3 linked regions of the Homo sapiens genome follow. The protein of the gene in region 2 interacts with the protein of the main gene of each other region in a pairwise test. Each region holds a gene or a part of one and is shown on either strand. Other genes may lie near its edges. The genes, in order: NCK2, CHN2 and NCK1.

Region 1 (3,653 bases), on a different chromosome or scaffold from region 2:
CTGAACCCCTCAGAAACCTTTCCATCCTGGCATGCTGCGAAGGAATTATGTCAGATCATGAACCTAAGGGCTCTTGGTGGCCTAGTGGTGGCTGCGAAAGCCAGCTCTAACCTGAGAAATGCCAAAATGAGCAGGAAAACACATGGGGACGGGGGGAGGCAGTGGATGGTGGGAAAAAAACAAGCAAAGGACTTGTCCACTTGTCCACCAGGACAGGTCCCTGGTAGTCACAGATGACAGCTGAGAACGCCTTGGTTATGAACAGGAAATACAGCAAACCTGGCATGGTTCTGCTGTCAGGAGAAAAGAAGCCACACACACACCTCAGGGCTCTTGCAGAATCCCCATGGAACAAGGCATGCACACTAACAGCTGAAAATGGCCCGTGTCACGGCAAGATCCATCAGGACAAGCTGCCCTGCACAGCATCAGGCCACGTGGAACCTCAGACAAAGACGGTGCTGCTATGTGTGCAGAGCCGATGCAAGTCCCAGTAAAGCTCTTTCCGCCCTATATTCCTAGAATCATATATGTTGTTCCTTGACTTTCTAAGTTAGGAGAGAATGCAAAAAACCCTGAAAGGCCCCCATTAAAAAACTGTTAAAAGGAAATACAAACAATTCGTGCTTTAGTTCTTTAGAAAAAGTTAGCTCATTCTCTAACAATATAAGACAACTGAGACAGTGGGGTGCAGAGTTCTGAGATGAAACCCAGACAATGCATGCATCCCTCCTTATCCAAAGGGACTTGGTCCCTGAATTCAGACAGCAATGACCACCTGTGCATGTTCCACAGAAAAGCCATAGGTCCTCCCTAAGGCCAGCAACCCCGGAGAACACCTTTTTCATCTACCCTCTAAAGTCTTTCCTCTTTTCCCCAAATCTTAGGCAGAAAGAATAATGACTGGGACCAATGTCTCCACACTGCAGGACTTCCTTCTGAGAAGTCTCCTCAAACTCAAAAAATTTTAAGCCAAGATCATATTTTGTGCATTATACTTAGCCCTTAAGGACTCTGGACCAAGCACTTAATATTGTAATTGGTTTTCCAGCGCTTTCTCTAAGTTTCTGCTCGATTGAGTTAAAAGCGCTGCTGTCCTTAATTTGCTTAAGGCTTCAAACACGATCTAAAAGAAGTGGTGCACAGAGCTCTCGTCATGTGAGAACAATTCAATGTGATGTCTTGCCAGGAATGATAAACTCTGGTGACTTGATAAATCTCAGAGTTCAGATTTCAGATGAAGTTAGCTTTCAGCCTGGCATTCCCGTCCAAGCACATGTAAGGCTCCGCAAAATTGATGACACCATAAAGGAGTCCAGTTTCCACCACCACGATGCTCCGTCCTCAAAGAGAGCACATCCCAGTCGCCTCTCTCTGGAGGGCTTTGAATGCCTCTCTGATCAGTCAACAGGACCCTTGAATGAGCACTTATTCATTGTGCCAGTAATCTTTTCAGAGGACAGCAGTGGCAGCAGGTAGTACATACTTACTAGTCTTATAGCGTGCATTTAAAAATGAAATTGAAGCCTCCTAGAACCAATACAATTCAAATACATTAAACTCTATCTCCTAAATGCTTGTTTTGGAAGTCTCTCGATTGTAGAAGGTGTATTCGGAAAGACGTTTGCAAAACTGGTCGAGTATTTCCTTCACACACGAAAAGCCTGCCTTCTGGGATGCAGGCTTGACCCCATGCCTGAAACTCACCGCCCCCAGCCTGCCCACCGCTGAACTGGGTCTGCTGCCCCAGTCGAGTGGCCTCATATCTCCGACTCACTGCACACAAACAAAACTCATCTCTCCCAAGAACCCCTGTTTTCTTTTCAATTTATCTCGTAAGTGCTTTAAAAGCTTTTGAGAGATGAACTCAGTGGCGCTGCCTGCCGTGGCAATGACCTTGGGATTATATGGTTTACAAAGAGAAAGCAAGCAAACAACAAAAGGAGGTGTCAGAAACCAGCCACCAGTCTTGCAAAGAATGCTTTCTCTGGGACACAGACCGAATAGAAACAAAGTAAATCACTCGGGCCTTCTACGTACACAGAATGGGCAACCAGGAGAGAAAATGATGTTTGAGCCTGTGAAATACAAGAGGGGGAATCTTGGGAGAGAAGCAGAACCACCTCTGTGAGCTAAAAACATCTTTTTAGTTAATCTCCCACCTCCAGAAATGGACACCCACTATCCCCAAAACAGATGCAAGTAAATCACGGAGTAGCAAACATTATACTAAATTGCATTCATCTGCGTCTCCCGCTCTTTCTAGTGTACTCACACAATGTGAAAAGGGCGCGGCACACAGACCCACCGCGCAAGGCGCATTTACTGCCTGCAGCCGGAGCTGTGGGCGCAGCGCACTTACCGAGGACTCGCTGTCCCTAATGAGGAAGTCGCCCTCCACGCCCCGCTCGTTGAGGGCGCACTCGGCCTGGTGCCGCGTCACGTTCCCGTAGTACCACTCTCTGCCCGCGAAGCGCCCGCTGGACGAGGGCCCGGTGTAGCTTATCTGTGGGGCGTGCGCAGGGTGCAGGGCAGGCCCGTCACTGAGGACCACCACGTAGTTTTTGGGGACGAGGCCCACCTGGCCCCGGGCATTTTTGCATTTCCACCACTCGGGGTCGTTCTCCGGCTTCTCAATCACCTCCATGGTCTCCCCCTTCTCGAAGTTGAGCTCCTCCTCGGTGACTGAGCTGAAGGGGTACAGCGTCTGGACCACATGCAGCACGCGGGAGCCCTGGCCATTGCTCAGCGAGGCGCCCTTGCGCAGGCTCAGGAAGCTTGGGGACTCCGCAGCCGCCTCGTCCACCTCCTCCAAGACGTAGTTGGAGGGGAACCAGCCGATCTGCCCGTTGTAGCTGCCCCGCCACCAACCGTCGCTGCACTTCTCCATGACGGTGACGCGCGACCCCTTCACCAGGGACAACTCATCCTCCCGCTCGGCCACATAGGCGAACTTGACGAAGGCCGGGATGTTGAGGTCGTAGATGCGGTCGGCGCCGCTGCCATTGGCGGGGTACTCGGCGTCCGTGCTGGGCGTGGGGGACGCATCCCGCGCGCTGGTCTTCCTGCGCGTCTTGCCGAGGCCTGTGGAGACACAGCAAGGCTCAGTGGCGCAGGGCACTTGGGCACCACCACACTCCCTAGCCTACCGGGATTTCCACGCAGTTTCTCTGGCGGTTAAATACAAGGGGACGACACATGGACAGTGCTTACAAACTGTAATTACCATGAGAAAAATACGGTTGCTGGCAGCTGCCTCCTGTAGTTGCGAAGTTACTTAAAGTTGAGAATTAAATTGATCTATTTTATCCATAAAAACATGTCACAGGGCCAGCACAGTGGCTCACGCCTGGAATCCCAGCCTTTGAGAGGCCCAGGCGGGAAGATTGCTTGAGGCCAGGAGTCTGAGACCAGCCTAAGCAACATAGCGAGACCGTGTCTGCAAAAAAAAAAAAAAAAAAAAAAAAAAAAAAAATTAGCCACCTGTGGTGCACATCTGTGGCCCCAGCTACTGGAGAGGCTGAGGTGGGAGGATGGCTTGAGCCAGAGTTGAGACTGCAGTGAGCCATGATCGCTCCACTGCACTCCAGCCTGTGCAACAGAGTGAGGCCCTGTCTCTAAAACCAAAAAATGCGGGAATACCAGTGACACAA
Region 2 (3,653 bases):
CTTAATCTGATATTAATTATTTCAGGAGAGTTTACAAAGCTTCTGTCAATTGCTTTTTCCACTGAAGAATTCATATTCCGAAAAAAGGCATGTGGATTAGTTTGGCTGCTTAAAGCAAGCATAGGACTCGGGCTCTCCTGAGACCAAAGTTCAACCCTAGGGCATATTAACATCACAGAGAACAAAAACTTCTGTGCCCTGGTCACCGGGAGTACCTTCAACCCTAGGCATTGATCATGAGGCAGATCCAGAGAGGATATTTGGCTAGAGCTAACCAGGACCCCAACCAGAAATTAACAACTCAAAGGGTACCTACTGAAAGAGAATAGTGCTCTCTGTGTATATGAAAATCAGCAAAAATAGTATTATTTACCAAATAAGTATGGTTTACTGGATCTCACTGTCTCTGAGGACAAGCACTGTAAAACAAAATGGTTATTTTTTTGTAATAAAGAGAATTTGAATGAGCAACTTAAATCAATATTAGGCAGCCAAATTATGTGTATTAATATCTACATATCATTAGCATAATCCCAAGTGAATTATTTCATTACTAAAAGTAATGCTAGAACTGACTTTTCATTTCCCTTGATATTAACTTATATACGATATAAATTTGACTGGAAATAATTGGAACCTAATCCACTTCCACTTTCTGTGTATACATATATACACACACATACAGAAATACAGATATGTGTGGATGTGTATGTAAACCCACATACTTATCCATGGCAGGACATCACGGTACAAAGGCTATGAGGCAAGAGTTTTCTACACACACACACACACACACACACACACACACACACACACACACACACAGAGAGAGAGAAAAACGTGTGCTTTGTTTCCTCAGCTTCTCTTTCCAACTTCATAGCATTGCAGGCTTTCTTTGGAAGGAGGCGTATACATAAATCTAACAAAAATACATGAAGTCTAGAATTAAACTGAAGCCCAAACAAAACAAAACACAAAATCTGTCTAAACAAGAATGTGACAAATGTCCCAACCTGTTCCTCTTTATAGAACTTCACTTGAAAGTCACTATAAAGATTCAGAAAAATTAAGGACATCTCTCAATGTCTGGGACTAAAACCAAACAGGGACCTGAGAATCAGGGCTGAGTTGCCTTGGTAAGTTTCTGCCTTGGTGAATGGAGGATAAGTAGACAGGGCTACAGGAGCCACTGAGCAGTGCATCAGCAGGTTTTGTATGGCAGATTCTGCGATCAAGGTTAGAACATTCTCACTGGAGTCATCCAGACCACAGCTGTCCAATACAAATATAATGTAAGCCACGCATGTAACTTCAAATATTCTAGTAGTTACCTTAAACACATTTTTAAAAAACAGGTAAAATTAATTTTGTAAATATATTATATTTAGCTTAATAGATCCTTTTTTTTTTTTTTTTTTTTTTTTTGAGACGGAGTTTCACTCATGTTGCCCAGGCTGGAATGCAATGGCGCAATCTCTGCTCACTACAACCTCTTTCTCCCGGATTCAAGCGATTCTTGTGCCTCAGCCTCCTGAATAGCTGGGATTACAGGTATGCGCCACCATGCCCAGCTACTTTTTGTATTTTTAGTAGAGACCAGGTTTCACCATGATGGTCAGGCTGATCTCAAACTCCTGACCTCAGGTGATCCACCCGCCTTGGCCTCCCAAAGTGCTGGGATTACAGGCGTGAGCCACCGTGCCAGGCCTAGATCCAAAATATTATCACCTAAACATATATTCAATATTTCAAAGGTTATGAGTCAGATATTTTATATTTTTTGGCTTTGTACTAAGCGTTTGAACTCTAGTGTGAATTTTACACTTGTAGCACATCTCAATTCAGACTAGCCATGTTTCAACGGCTCAGTAACCACATGTGGCTGTCACACTGGACTGTGCAGGTCTAGGTCTTGAGAATCAGGCCCTTAGAGGTCAATGGCACACCCCAGCCTCTGACACATGCTGCAGGAGATCTACTGCAACAGCCACGCTCCCTGCTTCCCATTTCTTTGCTGTCCCAACAGTCTCTTGGGCTTATTTCATGGAAGCAACATCATGTAAGAAAAAGCATTTCACATTGCTAATATGGCATTATGTGAAGTAATAAGGAAGCGCTAGGTTTCACTTCCTTGAAAAGGACAATACCCAGCCAGTACTGAGGGTGCAGAGGGCAATGATGGGGCCCGATAAAATCCAGGAACTGGGCCTCCGATGAGAAAAGAATTGCATAAGGTTATCACCCAAGTGCTTCTGTGATTCATATTGCCCTAAATCAATGATCTAAGTTATGTCAATAAATAATAAGCCACCATGTCACAGTCTTTTGGTTATTATAGTTTCTGAATCCAATGGCCTCAACATTCACCTCTTTCTTGACAGTTAACTTGACACTTTAAAGACACCTTCCACCTTCCCATTTTGTTGCACTTGAGGATGGTAACAGAAGTTCAAGGAGAACTGTTTCCTTTTCTTAGAAACTGTCATATTCCTGCATCTTATTTGCATGCATTTCCCCCCAATTAAATGTGCTGAAAATTCCAAAAGCTAACTTTATTTTCTAAAAACCAATGCATTTGCTTTGCCCTGATGTGGGCTTTTTGTAGAAGTAAAAATCCTTCTAGCTAGCTGCTGATGGCCAGGTTGGTAGAAAATCTCTTTTAAATAACACGGCTTGTATATGCCACTAGCAACCTCAGTCCACACATTCACAGTTTTCCTTACGATGTCTTTAAAGGAGATTCAATGGTAAGATCCAAACTTTTTGAACATGGGCACTTTTTCCTCTTTGAGGGTGAAATCAGAACTCACTGTGGGTTTATTTGAAAAAGAAATTGAGTTGCCATTAGGGAAACAACAAACCACTTTTTAAATAAAGCTTGAATCATACCTCAGGACTACAGAGTTTATAAACATTTTCAATTACCCTCCCCAATATCATCCTCCAGCTGTCATTCCACAGTTTCCCTCGGGGTCATAAAGAAATTACTTTTTTAAAAAGTCAATTTGCAAAATTAGTAAAAGATAACCTAAACAGCACAAGCAGCACACACAGCAATGGGAGCGCTCTGGATCAGATTTTCTCTTTTTAGCTTGTTGATTTTACATTAGTTTTGTCTCTGTCTTAGAGAATTTCCTGTAAAAAATGATAAAAATGTTTTGTGTCTGTGTAGTCCAATATGGTAGCCACTGGCCATGTGTGCTATTGAGCACTAGAAAGATGCCTAGGGTAACTGAGGAACTGAATATTTTTACACTTAAATTTAAATAGCCACATGTGACTAATGGTTACCATACTGGACAACACAGCTATACACAGGGCAGACCTAAGCCACTTAAATCTTTGTGCCTTTATGGGTACAACAGCCTGGAGATCTGAGGCCCATTTAAAATATAAAGCGCTTTATGACTTCTTTTTTGAAAGTATTAAGTAATTAAATAGAGCAGCCTCTATGAGGCCAGAGAGAAAAAAAAAAAAGTCTACAAGAAATTCTCTAAGGATGATGCTACTCTTTAGGATGAGCCAGGAAGTGGGTGGGGGGAGCATTAATGTCACAGGAGCTTGGGTCCTAGATGACAGTTCCAGCTCTAGCTCTGCTGTCAAGTAACTGAGTGGCATGAGACAGTTTCTGAGTTCCTTGGGCTCTGATTTTC
Region 3 (3,653 bases), on a different chromosome or scaffold from region 2:
TCTTATATATTTTTATGCATCAGAAACATTGTGAGTAGAGGTTCTATGTTTCACCACACTGCCATTAGGCAGGAGGAGGGGAGGTCCATGGCTTAACCCATTTGTGCCTAGTGTTCCATTATTGGAACGCTAAGCTTGTGAGAGTTATTTATATCATGCTCAAGGTCGTCACCAAGGTCTGATTTTTCACACAAGAAATTGCAACCTCCGGCATATATGGGTTAAAAAAGGGAAAAGGTCAGGAGCCCTTGATTTGTTCATTTTTGAGGGGTATGGGTTTTTAATCTGTTAGTGCTTAATGAAATCATGGGATTCCAGTTCCCCCACCAAAAATTAGGGGGATAGCTGAACCACAAGGCATAATATTGATAAAATTGGGTGATAGGTATAGGATTCATTATACTATTCTCTTCTGTAAATGTTGAAAAGTGCCATAATTATAAAACTTAAAAGCATTATATAAATTTTTAGTTATTATACCAGTAATGTAGTAGAATGCTATTTTTGTACATTCTGGGGAGGACTAGATAATATTGGTAATACTTTTGTCACCCTGATAGGTAAAGTGTGGTATTTCAGTTTAGTTTTCATTTCTTTAATTATAAAGATATTCAGGATCTTTTGAATACTTTTTGACTATTTGTGTTTTCTCTTTCAGTTTTTATTTTAATTAAACTTTTTATTTTGAGATCATTATAGATCCACATGCAATTCTGAGAAACTTTAGAACTTATTGCGAGATCCAGTGTATGCTTTCCTCCAGTGGCAATACATCTGGCAGAAGTATAGTACAATATCACAATAATATTACAAAATTTCTTCATATTGCCCTTTTATAGTCATACTTACTTCCCTCCTGTTCCTGCTGCCCCGTTAACCCTGGCAACTACTAATCTGTTTCTAATTTCCATATTTTGTCATTTTGAGAGTGTTATATAAATGGAGTCATATAGTTAACCTTTGAGATTGGCTTTTTTCACTGAGCAGTTATAATTCCCTGGAGATTCATCCAGGTCGTTTTGTGCATCAATTGTTCTTTTTGGTATGAACGTACCAGTTTGTTTAATTATTTGCCTGTTGAAGGACATCTGGGTGGTTTCCGGTTTTTGACTGTTAGAAATAAAGTTGCTGTTAACATTCATGTAAAATGTGAACATAAATTTTCATTTCTCTGGGATAAATACCCAGGGGTGCAGTTGCTAGCTTGTATGGTAGTTGCATGTTTAGTTTTATGAGAAACTGTCAGACAATTTTGCGGAGTATCTGTACCATTTTACATTCTCATCAGCAGTATACGTGTGATCCAATTTCAACTTACCCTTGTCAGCATTTGGTATTACCACTCTTAGCCATTCTGACAAGCGTATGTAGTGACATCTCAGTGTGGTTTTAATTTGCATTTCTTTAATAGCTAATGATGAATACCTTTTCATCTGCTTATTTGCCATCTGTAAATCTTCAGTGAATGCCTCTTCATGTTTTTTTGCTCATTTTCTAGTTGGATTTGTTTTTCTAATGTTTCTTTAACTTTTCTAACTGCTTAAGATAGATACTCAGTTCATTAATTTATTTTTAGCTCTTTTTAAAATTTTATTTTAAATTTTATTATTATTATTATTATTATTTTTTGATACAGAGTCTCGCTCTGCGGCCCAGGCTGGAGTGCAGTGGCGCGATCTCGGCTCACTGCAAGCCCCGCCTCCCGGGTTCAAGCCATTCTCCTGCCTCAGCGTCCCAAGTAGCTGGGACTACAGGCACCCGCCACCACGCCTGTCTAATTTTTTTGTATTTTTAGTAGAGACAGGGTTTTACCGTGTTAGCCAGGATGGTCTCGATCTCCTGAACTTGTGATTCACCCGCCTCAGCCTCCTGAAGTGCTGGGATTACAGGCATGAGCCACCGCGCCCGGCCACTCTTTTTGTTTTTTAATGTTACTATTTAAAACTAAAAATCTGTCTATATACACTCCTCTTGCTACATCCCACAGAGTTCGATGTATAGTTTTTAAAATTATTTACTTCTAAGTATTTTCAAAATTCAATATGATTTCTTCTTAGATTCATTAGTTTTTAGAAGTTTCCAAACGTGGTATTTCAAAAGTTATCTTTTTGTTATGGTTGTTGGAGAATATGGTTGTAGGATATCAGTTACGTGAACATTGAGACATTCTTTATGGCCTGGCATTTGATTGCTTTTTGTATGTGTTTCATTTGTTTTCTATTTGGAAGCAATATTCTGTATATGTCTATTAAATCAGACTTGCTGGTTGTGATATGAGTTCTTCTCTAGCCTTAATAATGTTTGTATTTATTTATTTATTTTTTTGAGACCAAGTCTGGCTGTGTCACCCAGGCCTGGAGTGCAGTGGCACGATCTTGGCTAACTGCAACCTCCGCCTCCCAGGTTCAAGGGATTCTCCTGCCTCAGCCTCCTGAGTAGCTGGGATTCCAAGTGTGCGCCACCATACCTAGCTAATTTTTGTATTTTTAGTAGAGATGGGGTTTCACCATGTTGGCCAGGCTGGTCTTGCATTCCTGACCTCAGGTGATCCACCAGCCTCGGCCTCCCGAAGTGCTGGGATTACAGGTGTGTGCCACCAGGCCTGGCCGTTTTTATTTCTTTGTTTTGTTACTCTGATAATATGTTAAAAATTGTCCTCTGTGGTAATGGGTTTGTCAAGATCTCCTTGTGGTTCTGTCAACATATTTTGAAACTATCTTGTTACTAGGTACATAGAAGTTTAGATATTGTAATTGAGTAGAACATTTTTCATTGGGTAGTGAACTTTATTGCTAGTAATGGTTTTTGCCCTTTAAGTTTTGTTTGATACTAATAGAGCAACACCAGTCTCTTTATTGATTGGTTGATTGATTGATTGAGACAGATTCTCCCTCTGTCGCCAGGCTGGAGTGCAGTGGTGCGATATCGGCTCACTGCAACCTTCGCCTCCCAGGTTCAAGCTATTCCCATGCCTCAGCCTCCTGAGTAGCTGGGACTACGGGTGTGCACCATCACGCCCAGCTAATTTTTGTATTTTAGTACAGATGGGGTTTCACCATGTTGGCCAAGCTGGTCTCGAACTCAACCTCAAGTGATCTGCCTGCCTTGGCCTCCCAAAGTGCTGGGATTACAGGCATGAGCCACTGCGCACGGCCATACAGTCACAGTCTCTTTAAATTACTATTTGCCTCATGTATTTTTTTCCATATTTTTTACTTTTCATCTTTATGTCTTTAGATTTTTAGGTGTGTCTCTTTTGAAAAGCATGTGAACTAATACTACCTCAACCTTACATAAAAATATTTTCCATGTGTTTACAGTGCTGAAGCTGCTGAAAGATGGCAGAAGAAGTGGTGGTAGTAGCCAAATTTGATTATGTGGCCCAACAAGAACAAGAGTTGGACATCAAGAAGAATGAGAGATTATGGCTTCTGGATGATTCTAAGTCCTGGTGGCGAGTTCGAAATTCCATGAATAAAACAGGTTTTGTGCCTTCTAACTATGTGGAAAGGAAAAACAGTGCTCGGAAAGCATCTATTGTGAAAAACCTAAAGGATACCTTAGGTAAGATATTTTTTAAAAGAAAAGCAACTTTGTTTTAAATGAAACCTGCAACTTAGTTCTTTGTACATAATTCTGGCAGCAGTGTGCAT

Evidence for each region.
Region 1: the proteins of CHN2 (region 2) and NCK2 interact in binary tests that used the Homo sapiens proteins (3 or more experiments, as listed by UniProt).
Region 3: the proteins of CHN2 (region 2) and NCK1 interact in binary tests that used the Homo sapiens proteins (3 or more experiments, as listed by UniProt).

The regions. Positions count from the first base shown.
Region 1 is NC_000002.12:105,880,759-105,884,411, reverse strand, and holds part of NCK2 (cytoplasmic protein NCK2), read right to left. Parts: intron 3,085-3,653; coding exon 2,363-3,084; intron 1-2,362. UniProt on the Homo sapiens protein: Adapter protein which associates with tyrosine-phosphorylated growth factor receptors or their cellular substrates. Maintains low levels of EIF2S1 phosphorylation by promoting its dephosphorylation by PP1.
Region 2 is NC_000007.14:29,201,240-29,204,892, reverse strand, and holds part of CHN2 (beta-chimaerin), read right to left. Parts: intron 1-3,653.
Region 3 is NC_000003.12:136,924,664-136,928,316, forward strand, and holds part of NCK1 (SH2/SH3 adapter protein NCK1), read left to right. Parts: intron 1-3,320; 5' UTR 3,321-3,338; coding exon 3,339-3,564; intron 3,565-3,653. UniProt on the Homo sapiens protein: Adapter protein which associates with tyrosine-phosphorylated growth factor receptors, such as KDR and PDGFRB, or their cellular substrates. Maintains low levels of EIF2S1 phosphorylation by promoting its dephosphorylation by PP1.